2 separate regions of the Homo sapiens genome follow, and region 2 is linked to region 1. The links come from fine-mapping of genetic effects on gene expression. Tissue or cell type: whole blood. Region 1 holds a variant in brackets; the other region holds the start of a gene. All regions are shown on one strand. Distances are between the middles of the regions.

What was found. PIP is the estimated chance that this variant, and not a neighbour inherited with it, causes the effect.
Region 2: it holds the start of PGD, and the variant in region 1 is fine-mapped to the expression of PGD in whole blood (TOPMed, PIP above 0.99).

Annotation. Positions count from the first base shown.
Region 1 is chr1:10,423,733-10,431,155 of GRCh38, forward strand. CENPS-CORT (CENPS-CORT readthrough) reads left to right here and starts at 6,701. Exons shown (of 4, transcript NM_199006.3): 1 at 6,701-6,836. The coding sequence starts at 6,786. It overlaps CENPS (centromere protein S), which reads left to right and starts at 6,701. Exons shown (of 5, transcript NM_199294.3): 1 at 6,701-6,836. The coding sequence starts at 6,786. RefSeq lists enhancers at 2,174-2,779, 2,780-3,385, 7,299-7,348 and silencers at 4,340-4,634, 6,799-7,048. The variant G/A (reference allele first, on the strand shown) is at 4,509.
Region 2 is chr1:10,397,021-10,403,197 of GRCh38, forward strand. PGD (phosphogluconate dehydrogenase) reads left to right here and starts at 2,044. Exons shown (of 13, transcript NM_002631.4): 1 at 2,044-2,105; 2 at 2,609-2,684; 3 at 3,373-3,552; 4 at 6,051-6,116. The coding sequence starts at 2,098. RefSeq lists an enhancer at 1,432-1,741 and silencers at 2,222-2,541, 2,634-2,810.

The DNA.
Region 1 (7,423 bases):
GGATTACAGGCACGAGCCACCATGCCTGGCCAAGCAGAAGGATTGCCAAGCAAAGAGACTTTAGGGAAGGATTTGCAGGGGTTACACGTTCTTTGAGGCAGATGTGGAGCCCATCATTTTGGAAGGGGTGGGAGCCTTCAGCACGCTGTTCAGCATGCGGGCGAATGCGTCTGCTCACTCTGTTAAATCTTGTATGCTGTCACAGTTGCTGCGGACTGGTGTGTAACAAACCACCCCAAAGTCAGTGGTGTAAAATAATCACCATTTAAATTTTCTTCTAATTCTGTGGGTCATGAATCTGGAAAGAGCATGGTGGGGGACGGGGGAGGCAGAGGCAGCTTGTCTGCTCCACAATGTCTGGGGCCTCAGCTAGGAGGACTCGAGAGCAGGGGTGGCACCATGGCTCGGGGGCGTGGAGTGTCCTCTCTCATTCATCTCGCGGTGGATGCTGGCTGTTGGCTGGGACCTCAGCTAGGGCTATGAGCTGGAAAAAGTTCATGTGGCCTCATCACATGGCCTCAGGCCAGAGAAACATCTTGTTTGTTGGCCCAGGGTTCTCACTAAGGAGGCAGAAGCACACACGTGGCTTTTAAAAACCCAGCTGTGAATGTTACATGGCAGGATTATAGCCATCCAAAATCGGTTCCAAGCAAGCCGCAAGTCCCCCAGACTCAAGGGGCAGAGGATTAGACTCTACCTCTTGATGGGGGAGTATGAGGTTCTAGAAAAGCACATGGATCAGGAGACATTGTTCTTGCCATCTTCGTAAATTACAGTCTGCCACATATGCTGCCCCTGAAAAGGAAAATCTGTTACATAGCAGAGTTGGGAACCGGCACTATTTGGGGCTTTTCCTGAGGGTCTCATATAGTATATATACTACTAGCTAACATTGAGAGCATATGCCAGGCTCTGTAACTCATTGAATGCTCGCAGCACCCTCTGAAGTAAGCACTATTACTATCCCTAATTTAGAGATGAAGCACACTGATATTAAGTAATTCGTCCAAGGTCAGAGCTACTGAAGAACTGGAATTGAACCCCAGAGATCTGGTGCCAGAGTCCATACACTTAATCATGAAACTGACCTGTCGGCGTGCACAGTTCATCGCCCCACTCATTCAGTCATTCGGCATGTTTATGGTACACCTACCATGTGCCAAGCATTGTGCTAGGTACCCTCTGTCGGGGTGAGAGAAGTCCAAAGTCCTGACCTCATGTGCTTACAGGATACATATAATATTTAACGATAATTATTTTTAAATTTTTATCTTCTCTTGAATAAACCTATGAAATGGAGATTGATTTTTTTTTTTTTTTTTGAGATGTAGTCTCACTGTCACCCAGGCTGGAGTGCAATGGCATGATCTTGGCTCACTACGACCTCCGCCTCCTGGGCAAGCGATTCTCCTGCCTCAGCCTCCTTAGTAGCTGAGATTACAGGCGTGCACCACCATGCCTGGCTAATTTTTGTATTTTTAGTAGAGATGGGGTTTCACCATGTTGGCCAGGCTGGTCACAAACTCCTGACCTCGGGTGATCCACCCGCCTCGGCCTCCCAAAGTGCTGGGATTACAGGCATGAGCCACCACGCCCAGCCAAGATTGATTTTTGTATTGACATTTTACAGTGCAGTTTTTTTTTTTTTTTGAGACGGAGTTTTGTGGGGAAAAGAAAGATCAGATTGTTACTGTGTTTGTGTAGAAAGAAGTAGACATAAGAGACTCCATTTTGTTTTGTACTAAGAGAAATTCTTCTGCCTTGAGATGCTGTTAATCTGTAACCTTACCCCCAACCCTGTGCTCTCCGAAACATGTGCTGTGTCAACTCAGGGTTAAATGGATTAAGGGCTGTGCAAGATGTGCTTTGTTAAACAGACGCTTGAAGGCAGCATGCTCGTTAAGAGTCATCACCACTCCCTAATGTGTCCGGAATTGGTGGGTTCTTGGTCTCACTAGCTCCAAGAATGAAGCCGCGGACCCTCGCGGTGAGTGTTACAGCTCTTAAGGTGGCGCATCTGGAGTTTGTTCCTTCTGATGTTCGGATGTGTTCGGAGTTTCTTCCTTCTCGTGGGCTCGTGGTCTCACTGGCTCAGGAGTGAAGCTGCAGATCTTCGCGGTGAGTGTTACAGCTCATAAAAGCAGCGTGGACCCAAAGAGTGAGCAGTAACAAGATTTATTGCAAAGAACAAAACTGCCACAGCGTGGAAGGGAACCCAAGCGGGTTGCCACTGCTGGCTTGGGCAGCCTGCTTTTATTCTCTTATCTGGCCCCACCCACGTCCTGCTGATTGGTAGAGCCCAGTGGTCTGTTTTGACAGGGCGCTGACTGGTGCGTTTACAATCCCTGAGCTAGACACAAAGGTTCTCCAAGGCCCCACCAGAGTAGCTAGATACAGAGTGTCGATTGGTGCATTCACAAACCCTGGGCTAAACAAAGGGTGCTGATTGGTGTATTTACAAACCTTGAGCTAGATACAGAGTGCCGATTGGTGTATTTATAATCCCTGAGCTAGACATAAAGGTTCTCCTCCTCCCCACCAGACTCAGGAGCCCAGCTGGCTTCACCCAGTGGATCCTGCACCAGGCTGCAGGTGGAGCTGCCTGCCAGTCCTGCGCCATGCGCCCACACTCCCCAGCCCTTGGGTGGTCGATGGGACTGGGCGCCGTGGAGCAGGGGGCCACGCTCATCGGGGAGGCTCGGGCCACACAGGAGCCCACGGAGTGGGTGGGAGGCTCAGGCATGGCGGGCTGCAGGTCCCGAGCCCTGCCCCACAGGAAGGCAGCTAAGGCCCAGTGAGAAATCGAGTGCAGCGCCGGTGGGCTGGCACTGCTGGGGGACCCAGTACACCCTCCGCAGCCGCTGGCCTGGGTGCTAAGCCCCTCATTGCCCTGGGCGGGCAGGGCCAGCCGGCTGCTCCGAGTGCGGGGCCCGCCAAGCCCACGCCCACCCGGAACTCCAGCTGGCCCGCAAGCGCCGCGCGCAGCCCTGGTTCCCGCTTGCGCCTCTCCCTCCACACCTCCCTGCAAGCTGAGGGAGCCGGCTCTGGCCTTGGCCAGCCCAGAAAGGGGCTCCCACAGTGCAGCGGTGGGCTGAAGGGCTCCTCAAGTGCCACCAAAGTAGGAGCCCAGGCAGAGGAGGTGCCGAGAGCGAGCGAGGGCTTTAGGACTGCCAGCACGCTGTCACCTCTCACTAATCTCAAGTACCCAGGGACAGAAACACTGCGGAAGGCCGCAGGGACCTCTGCCTAGGAAAGCCAGGTATTGTCCAAGGTTTCTCCCCATGTGATAGTCTGAAATATGGCCTCGTGGGAGGGAAAGACCTGACCGTCCCCCAGCCCGACACCCGTAAAGGGTCTGTGCTGAGGAGGATTAGTAAAAGAGGAAGGAACGCCTCTTGCAGTTGAGACGAGAGGAAGGCATCTGTCTCCTGCCCGTCCCTGGGCAATGGAATGTCTCAGTATAAAACCCGATTGTATGTTCCATCTACTGAGATAGGGGAAAACCGCCTTAGGGCTGGAGGTGGGACAGGCGGGCAGCAATACTGCTCTTCAAGGCATTGAGATGTTTATGTGTACACATATCTAAAGCACAGCACTTAATTCTTTACCTTATCTATGGTGCAGAGACCTTTGTTCAAGTGTTTATCTGCTGACCTTCTCTCCACTATTATCCTATGATCCTGCCACATCCCCCTCTCCGAGAAACACCCAAGAATGATCAATAAATACTAAGGGAATTCAGGCCGGCGGGATCCTCCATATGCTGAACGCTGGTCCCCTGGGCCCCCTTATTTCTTTCTCTATACTTTGTCTCTGTGTCTTTTTCTTTTCCAAGTCTCTCGTTCCACCTAACGAGAAACACCCACAGGTGTGGAGGGGCAACCCACCCCTTCAAGTTTCGCTCTTGTTTGCCCAGGCTGGAGTGCAATGCACGATCTCAGCTCACCGCAAAACCTCCGCCTCCCAGGTTCAAGCGATTCTCCTGCCTCAGCCTCCCGAGTAGCTGGGATTACAGGCATGCACCACTACGCCTGGCTAATTTTGTATTTTTAGTAGAGACAGGGTTTCTCCATGTTGAGGCTGGTCTCGAACTCCTGACCTCAGGTGATCCGCCTGCCTCGGCCTCCCAAAGTGCTGGGATTATAGGCGTGAGCCACCACGCCCGGCTGAACTAAATATTTATGGAACCCTCCTTAATGCAGATGAAAAGGATTAAAGAAACCCACCAAGGTCTTTGTCTTATTTATGGTGAGGGCAGTGGATAAACCGGAAACTCGGAAACCAGCCTAATAATCAAATCTGGTCTCTATCACTTCCCAGTAGTTTAGCCTTGGGCAGAGTTCTTTCACCTGTTTCCTCATGTAAAATGGGGCTAACAGCACCTACTTTTGAGGGCAGATGAGATATTAAATGAGTGCCTAGAGCGAGGACAAGTGCAAAGTGCTCAGTGTCATGGCAACATTGCCAGCGGGCATCCCTGGCCTTGCTTCACGCTGTAGTGCAACACT[G/A]ACATCTAGTGGCCAGATTATAGGGCTACTTCTTCATCAAGTAAGTTTCAACCAAATATTAATATATCCTTTTTTCATTATTTTTTTTAGAGACAGTGTCTCCCTCTGTCACCCTGGCTGGAAAACAGTGGGGCAATCACGGCTCACCATAGCCTTGAACTGGGCTCAAGTGATCCTCCTGCCTTGGTCTCCCTAAGTGTTGGGATTACAGGCTTGAACCACCACACCCAGTTCCATTTTCTGTAATGAATACCTCAACCCTCGACCTATTTCTCAGACCTTTTTTTTTGAGACAGAGTCTCGCTCTGTTGCCCAGGCTGGAGTGCTATGGTGCGATCTCAGCTCACTGCAACCTTCACCTCCCGGGTTCAAGCAATCCTCCTGCCTTAGCCTCCCAAGTGCTAGGATTACAAGCATGTGCCACCATGTCTGGCTAATTTTTGTATTTTTTGGTAGAGACAGGGTTTCATCATGTTGGCCAGGCTGGTCTTGAACTCCTCACCTCAAGTGATCTACCTGCCTCGGCCTCCCAAAGTGCAGGAATTACAGGTATGAGCCACTGCTCCTAGCCTCTGAGGCTCTTAAGTGCCTCTGTATTGCACACATGTCACTGGAATACTGTTCTTTAATCCTGGGAAGCAACTGCTTTAAAATGAGGGAACACACAGGTACAAAGCACAGGAACTTCCTGGGACGAATTGTTACAATTTCTTTAGCTCTTATGTGAGGCAATTGTTTAAAACCTGACACCTGCCCTGTGAAGTTGGAACTACTGTCCCCAGTTGATAAATAAGGGACATGAAGCTTGGCCACGTCCTGTGACTTGCTTGGGGTCACCAGGCTCAAGGGAGGGAGCTGGGCTTTGCAGCCACAGTGTGCTCTAAATGGGGCTGCTCACCAACCAGCGACCGGCCTTCTCTCCTGCTGCAGGCTTGGTCTCACTCTGGATGGCCTGCCCTGCCCAGCCCCATGCTGCCCATTAGGGGAATCCGTCAGAGGCTTGCCCTGCTTGGGCAGGAGGACTGTCCAGGTAGACTGGGATGCCCACAGAGAGCAGTGGACAGAGGCGAGAAGTGCCTGTCATTTCCAGATGCCACCCACTGAGCAGATGCAGAGGAAAGTCCTCAGAAGGCTGATTCCTCCAAAAAGCTTTGATCTGGGTTTCAGCCCCTGGCAAGCTTAGGGAACTTGAGGGACGTCCCTGGGAAAGGAAGACAAGGAGTGGCTTTATGTGCTTTCCTTCGTTCTGAAAGTAGCACCTGCTTGTGACAAATGCAGAATACAGAAATATAGGCAATAAAAAATAATAAAACAAAAACCTAGAAATACAGGCAGGGCATGGTGGCTCACACCTGTAATTCCAGCACTTTGGGAGGCTGAGGTGGGATGATTGTTTGAAGCCAGGAGTTTGATACCAGCCTGGGCAACATAGTGAGACCTGGTCTCTACAAAAAATAAAAATTAGCCAGGTGCGCTGATGCAGGCTTGTGGTCCCAGCTACTTGGGAGGCTGAAGTGGGAGGATCACCTGAGCCCAGGAGGTGGAGGTTACAGTGAGTCTTGGTGGTGCCACTGCACTCCAGCCTGGGCGGCAGAGTGAGACCCTGCCTCTCAAAAAACTACAATAAAAACAAACCAAAATTGGGTTTGATGGTCTCACTTCATCGTTAACATAAAGGAAAAACAGTAACACTTGTGTCAGAACTATACTCCTGCCAATGGCAACAACGCAGTTCCTGTTCCACTCGCTGAATGAGGTCACGGGTCGTTCACTCATTGTAGTCTTTGTGACGCTATTGTTGGTGATAGAATGATAAAGTTGATGGTCGATTTTGCAAGATACACCTGAGGTACAGGTGCATGGAGCTCCTGATAATGTGTACTGCGTTACATGATCTGTAAATCGTGGGCTACGCATCCTCTACACCCGACTGGAACACGCTTTGCACCTATGCGCACACGTGTTTCGCGGAGAGTGGTGCTCAGCGTTGTGCCAGGCGCTGAATCAGGCTCTGGGGTGCAGCAGTGACCTCGGTGGTCATGTCCCCGCGTCGCCCGGCCACCTCCGCAGAGCAAGCTGAGCAGGGGGCTGGCTGGAGGCCGACGGCGGAATCCCCTCAACGGAGCGCCGCCAGGGGGCGCGCGAGGCAGGGCGGAGCTGCGTACTTTGTCCGCCCGCGCGGCCCGTCGCTCGCGCCGCGGCGGGAAAATCCGACCTGGCCGCGCACCACCGCCCCTTCTCGGCCCTCCTGCGTTTGCCCAGGGTCGGCCCGCAGTGATGGAGGAGGAGGCGGAGACCGAGGAGCAGCAGCGATTCTCTTACCAACAGGTACAGGAAAACGGGGGTCGGGCTGGGCTGGGGCAGGACGGCGTCGAGTTTCTGGACAGAAAAGTACCCGGCAGCCCCCGGCGGCTTCTCATCGGCACCCCGCCCCCGGGCGCCCCCCGCGGCTGCGCATGCGTTGGCTTAACTGCCGCGGGTGGTGCTGGGAGGCGGTTTCCGCGGCAACGCGGCTGGACCCTGGCCTGCGCTGGCTGGGGAGGAAGCGGTTCTAGGGGAGCGTGCGGGCGCCGGGGTCCGGCGGCGAGAGGCCACCTTCTGGCCTTGCGATGAATCCTCGGTTTCCCCTTCTCAGATGGGGTTTTCGTGAGGGTACAACGTCGGCATTAGACATTCCAGGTGACGCCCGTACGCGGTGGGCGGTTCGGGCCGGAGCTCTGGAACGCTGGCCCTGGAGGCGTCGACCCCTCGTTACTGATGCAGGGACGCGGTGCGGACCAGTCAGGCCCAGAGCTCGTCCTTAGATGTGGGTTCGAATCTCTGCCCCGCCAACTTGTGATCGTATCGACTCGGCCCAGACGCAATTTTCTTCTCTGCAAAATCGTCATAAGAATAATCACTTGTCAGGGTAGCTG
Region 2 (6,177 bases), 27 kb before region 1:
TCAACAGATAAATGGATAAGCAAATGATGACACAATTGCATTAATGGAATACCACTCAGCAATGAAAAGGAACAAACCACTCATACCTACAACACAGATGAGCCTCAGAAACGTGATGCTAAGTGAAAGAAGCCAGACCAAAAAAATTATATGCTATTATTCCATTTCTATGAAATTTCTGGAAAAGGCAAAAACCATGCAAAGTAGATCAGAGGTTGGCTGGGGGTGAGAGCAGAGACTGACTACAAATAGGCCCAAGGGAACGTTTTGGGGTGATGGAAGTTTTCTATAAGTGGATTATGGTGATGGCTACACAACAGTATAAATTAAAGGTCATCCAAATGTGTACTTACAATGTTTGAATTGTATGACATGTAAATTATCTCATTAAATCTGTATTTTAAAAAAAGAACTGTGCTGTGAAGTTTGACATATTTTAAAGTAGGATGTCTTAGCCGGGCATGGTGTTGCATGCCTGTAGTCCTAGCTACTCAGGAAGTTGAGGCTAGAAGATTGCTCGACCTCAGGAGTTCAAGGCTGCAGTAAGCTATGGTCATGCCACTGCACTCCAGCCTGGGCAACAGAGCAAAGACCTGGTCTTTATAAAAATTAAAAACCGGCCGGGCACAGTGGCTCACACCTCTAATCCCAGAACTTTGGGAGGCTGAGGTGGGTGGATCACTTGAGGTTAGGAGTTCGAGACCAGCCTGGCCAACATGGTGAAACCCTGTCTCTACTAAAAATAAAAACATTAGCTGGGCATGGTGGCACACACCTGTAGTCCCAGCTACTTGGGAGGCTGAGGCAGGAGAATCGCTTGAACCTGGGAGGTGGAGGTTGCAGTGAGCCCAGATCGCGCCACTGCCCTCCAGCCTGGAGACACAGCCAGACTCCATCTCAACAATGACATCAAAAAAAGGCCGGGCACGGTGGCTCACGCCGGTAATCTCAGCACTTTGGGAGGCCAAGGCGGGCGGATCACGAGGTCAGGAGTTTGAGACCAGCCTGGCCAAGATGGTGAAACCCCATCTCTACTAAAAATACAAAAATTAGCTGGGCGTGGTGGCGGGCGCCTGTAATCCCAGCTACTTGGGAGGCTGAGGCAGGAAAATTGCTTGAACCCGGGAGGCGGAAGGTGCAGTGAGCTGAGATCACACCACTGCATTCCAGCCCGGGCGACAGTGCGAGACTCCGTCTCAAAAAAAACAAAAAAAATCTAAAACTCAAACTTCTGAATAACAATTTCCTCCTAGCAAGAAGGGACTCAGTAAGATAAGAAGCGCTGCTTGGCTACTTTGCAAATGTCTGGCTTAAGATGGCTGGTTTTTTGTATCTGCCTCTGCATTTAACCTGGTCCATCTCGCGGGTCACATAGCCTCTACAAAATGAGAAGGGGTTCAATACCGTTAACTCCGGGCCTGGGTAAAAGACTCAAGTCCTGACCCCATCATACTCCAACCAATACATACCCCGCCTGCGCTGTCTGCGCCTGGGTCTCTTCAACCGCAGTGAGCGGTCGCACGGCTCCACATCAGGGTCGCCCTGAGGCTCAGCCTTCCCCGGCCCCATTCCGAGTGCGCACAGGACTGAACGAGCACGCCCGGTCCCTGCTCCGGAGCGGAGGACACGACGCGGACCCGCACGGTGCACCGCAGTGACCTGAGGAAGGAGCGACGGGCGCTCGCGCCAAAGGCGTCCGAGTGCCTGGTAAACTGTAAAGCGCGGTCCTGCGTGAGTTGCTATGGCTACAGCTGCGCCAGGCGGACGGCCTGCAGGACCGAGGTGCAGCTGGGACGAGCGGAAAGCTCTGCGCGTGGGCGGGGAGCCCGGAGCCTCGCCGGGGCAATGTCATCTAGGTGCTCGGCGCTCCACTGATCCGGCCCCCGGGGGTGGGCGGGCACGTTTGCCTCGGATGGTCTAACAGGCGTCGGGGAGAGCCAATGGTGTGGCTTCATGGCTCCACCCCCTTCCATTCGATTGGCCGGCGCCGAAAAGCCGGGCGTGAGCGGCCGCAGTTTCTGGAGGGAGCCGCTGCGGGTCTTTCCCTCACTCGTCCTCCGCGCGTCGCCGCTCTTCGGTTCTGCTCTGTCCGCCGCCATGGCCCAGTGAGTGACTCGCCAGGGGCAGCCCGGCTCGGCCTCAGCGGGCGGGGAACTCTTTGGGGGTCGAGATCTCCCTCGTTCTCTCCGACGCCTCCCACCCTGGGGGTCGCCTGAGCTCACTTGGGGCTCTGTGACCCTGGCCCTACGGCGTCTCGGGCCCAGAGCTCCTTCCCTGCGGGCCCGGCCCCCTGCCCTCTCGGCCGCGCAGGCATGGGGCGGGGCGGGTCCCTTCGAGGGCCAGGGAGGAGGCGCGGCCAGGCCTCGCCGAGTCTGCAGGGACACCTGCGGGACGCGTGCCAGCGGGAGCCGGGCGCGAGGGCGGGGCTGGGGGCCGCCTGCCCGGCCGAGGCTCTGCAGCGTGCGCGCCCGGCTTCTGGGGGCCCGCGGGAGGCGCGGAGGAAAGTGCAGACTCCCAGTCACGGCCAAATGTGGAAGGACCGGACCCCTGGGTTGCAGCGCGTCGAGCGGTGCTGACTCTTTCCTTTGTTCTGTTTCTGCCTCTCTAGAGCTGACATCGCGCTGATCGGATTGGCCGTCATGGGCCAGAACTTAATTCTGAACATGAATGACCACGGCTTTGTGGTAAGCGGCGTGGGCGCGTTGTCTTCTCTCTGGTTCCCGGGCGCTTTAGCCGAGGCCGGCGATAGGTTTGGGAGCTTACGGGTCTCCTGGCCGTGCTTTGCTAATGTGCTCTGTTGCTGCTCGTGGCATTTTTGTATGGAAAGGAGAAGCACCCTGTAGGCGTGGGCGGGCCGATCCCGAACTTAGTCCTGCGGAGTGTGCCTGTGGGTCCGTGAGGTTCACAGCCCGAATGAACGAATTAGTGTCTTAAGTAGAGAAGAAGGGTGCGGGAGGAGAACCCTTGCTGGCTGTGTAGAGCTCTAACTTGATTGCCTGATGAGATCTGGGGAGAGTGAAAATGTTTCTTCTAAATGTTAAAGTGGCTTAGACGCCAGGATGATCAATAACAACAGATAGAGCCTGTTGAACCGGCCAGTTCCTGGATTTGATTTTGAGTCCTAACACGTTGGGTGTGGATTCTACCTGACACACCGGGGGTAGTTGGCCTTCGCCTCGGTTGTCCGCCGTTTTCATCCTACTGAGGTGACATAACTTTACAGTGAGCCTCCCACAGCTGGGGGAAGAAAAGGCAAAGGCAGGTCTGACCTCCCCAGAACTTGGGTTGAATGGAAAGGTCATTGTTACTTTGGCCACAGTCTGAAAGTCTTGTGTGTCCTGGATCTCCTACTCAGGACTTTTGTCCTTCTAGGTCTGTGCTTTTAATAGGACTGTCTCCAAAGTTGATGATTTCTTGGCCAATGAGGCAAAGGGAACCAAAGTGGTGGGTGCCCAGTCCCTGAAAGAGATGGTCTCCAAGCTGAAGAAGCCCCGGCGGATCATCCTCCTGGTGAAGGCTGGGCAAGCTGTGGATGATTTCATCGAGAAATTGGTGAGGCCAGCTGTGCTCTCAGCTGCTACCACGATAGCAGCTGTTTTTGGTTTCTTCCTTTAGTTCTCCTTCTTTTAACTCTAGAGATTTTTTTTTTTCAATTTCTGCTAAGCTCTGACCAAATGATTGCTTAACTGTTGCAGTGTTGGTTAACTTGATAAGCGCTTATGAAGTAACTTTGTCCTTTGGTGGTAGTAATTCTGAGAATACTAACAGACATTTCAATAAACATTAAGGCGGGGCACAGTGGCTCAGGCCTGTAATCCCAGCACTTTTTGGGAGGCTGGTTCAGATGGATCGTTTGAGCCCAGGAGTTCGAGACCAGCCTGGGCAACATGGCGAAACCCTGTCTCTACATAAAATTAAAAAATTAGCTGGGTATGGTGGTGTAAGCTTATGGTCCCAGCTACAAGCTTATGGTCCCAGGTTCGAGACCAGCCTGGCCAACATGGTGAAACCCCGTCTCTACTAAAAATATAAAAATTAGCTGGGCTTTGTGGCTCATGCCTGTAATCCCAGTTACTCGGGAGGCTGAGGAATGAGAATCACTTGAACCTGGGAGGTGGAGGTTACAGTGACCTGAGATTGTGCCACTCCAGTTTGGCGACAGAGCGAGACTCCGTCTCAAAAAAAAAATGAAAATAAAATCAAGATCTCCTTAGGGAATCCTAGGGAACTGGATGCTTATTTTTGTACCAAACAATTTGTTGGCTTTAGCAGGTATATCTTTTTTGGAAGAAAAAAGTAGGGGAACCAGTGGAAATAATGTGTTTAGATACCCAAAATAATTCTATAGTAACAACTCTGAAAAAACCCAGGCACTCCCATTTAGAAGAAATGTTTTGCTGTAAGCAGTGCAGTGATAGCTCAGGGGAGGCTGAGCATTCCTTTCTAGAGGAGTCGTGTCAACAGTGGGGTTGTTTCCACAGGGAGAAGGATTTGTAACCAGTATGCCACTGTTTTTCAATCAAATGACCTAGAAAGGAAGAACACTGAGTTTAAAAAAAGGACATACTAAATTTTTTGTGTGGCAAGCTGCCTGTAATCAGTTTCAGACAGAGAAAACTGAAAAATGGTGGATTATTCTTCAGTATAGGAAAATACTAAGTAATGTTAACTGGAGCCTTGTAGGGGGAAGATTGAATAATATAATGAAGCCCAGGCTGGGCGCGGTGGCTCACGCCTGTAATCCCAGCACTTTGGGAGGCAGAGGTGGGTGGATCATGAGGTCAGGAGATCGAGACCATCCTAGCTAACACGGTGAAACCCCATCTCTACTAAAAATACAAAAAATTAGCCAGGCGTGGTGGTGGGTGCCTGTAGTCCCAGCTACTTGGGAGGCTGAGGCAGGAGAGTGGCGTGAACCCGGGAGGCAGAGCTTGCAGTGAGCCGAGATCACACCACTGCATTGCAGCCTGGGTGACAGTGCGAGACTCCGTCTCAAATAAATAAATAAATTAATTAATTAATTAATAAAGTAATAATAATAATAAAGCCCAGCCTGGTTGGTGTGCTGTAGGTAGATATTCATGTTCAAGGCTCTGTCTCTTCCTGACCTCCGAACTGTTGTCATAAAATCATTCATTCATACACTAAACCATTTGATATGTATTTACTGAATCCCCACTCTCTTCTAGACACATTATAGTCAGTGTTTAATCTGTATACTTACTTAAAAATAGAAATGGGGTCTTGCTATGCTGTCCATGCTGGTCTCAAATTCCTGGGCTCAAGCGATCCTCCTGCCTCAACCTCCCAAAGTGTTGGGATTACAGGTGTGAGCCACTGAGCCTGGTCAGCCCTAAACTTTTAAATAGTGTGCAGCTCTGGCCACAGAGAGGATTATTGAAGATTAAGTAGGCTGGGTGCGTTGGCCTCCTGCCAAGCCAGGAGGCTTTTAGCCCAGGAGTTTGAGACCAGCCTGGGCGACATGGTGAGACTCCATCTCAAAAAAAATTTTTTTTTTTTGAGACGGGGTCTCACTCTGTCCCCCAGGCTGGAGTGCAGTGTTGCGATCTCAGCTCACTGCAAGCTCCACCTCCCGGGTTCACGCCATTCTCCTGCCTCAGCCTCCCGAGTAGCTGGGACTACAAGGCGCCTGCCACAACGCCCGGCTAATTTTTCGTATTTTTAGTAGAGACGAGGTTTCACCATGTTAGCCAGGATGGTCTTGATCTCCTGACCTTATGATCCACCCACCTCGGCCTCCCAAAGTGCTGGGATAACAGGCGTGAGCCACCGCGCCTGGCCTACAAAAAAAATTTTAAAACTAGCTGGGCATTGTGGTTCAAGGAGTTCAAAGTTGCAGTGAGTCATGTTCACACCACTGCAGGAGTTCAGGGTTTCAGTGAGCCATGTTCGCACTCCTGCATTCCAAGCTGGGCAACAGAACGAGACTCTTTTTAGACTATGTTTATTTGGAATAAATTCTTGTTTGTTTTAATTTGCCAAGGTATGTTTCATTTTTGGTCCATCTTAATGCTGGTGTCTGGTTACAGGTACCATTGTTGGATACTGGTGACATCATCATTGACGGAGGAAATTCTGAATATAGGGACACCACAGTAAGTGTTCTTCAGTCCAGATTCTTCCAGGTTCCGAGAACATTCTAGAAAAAAGTGTCAG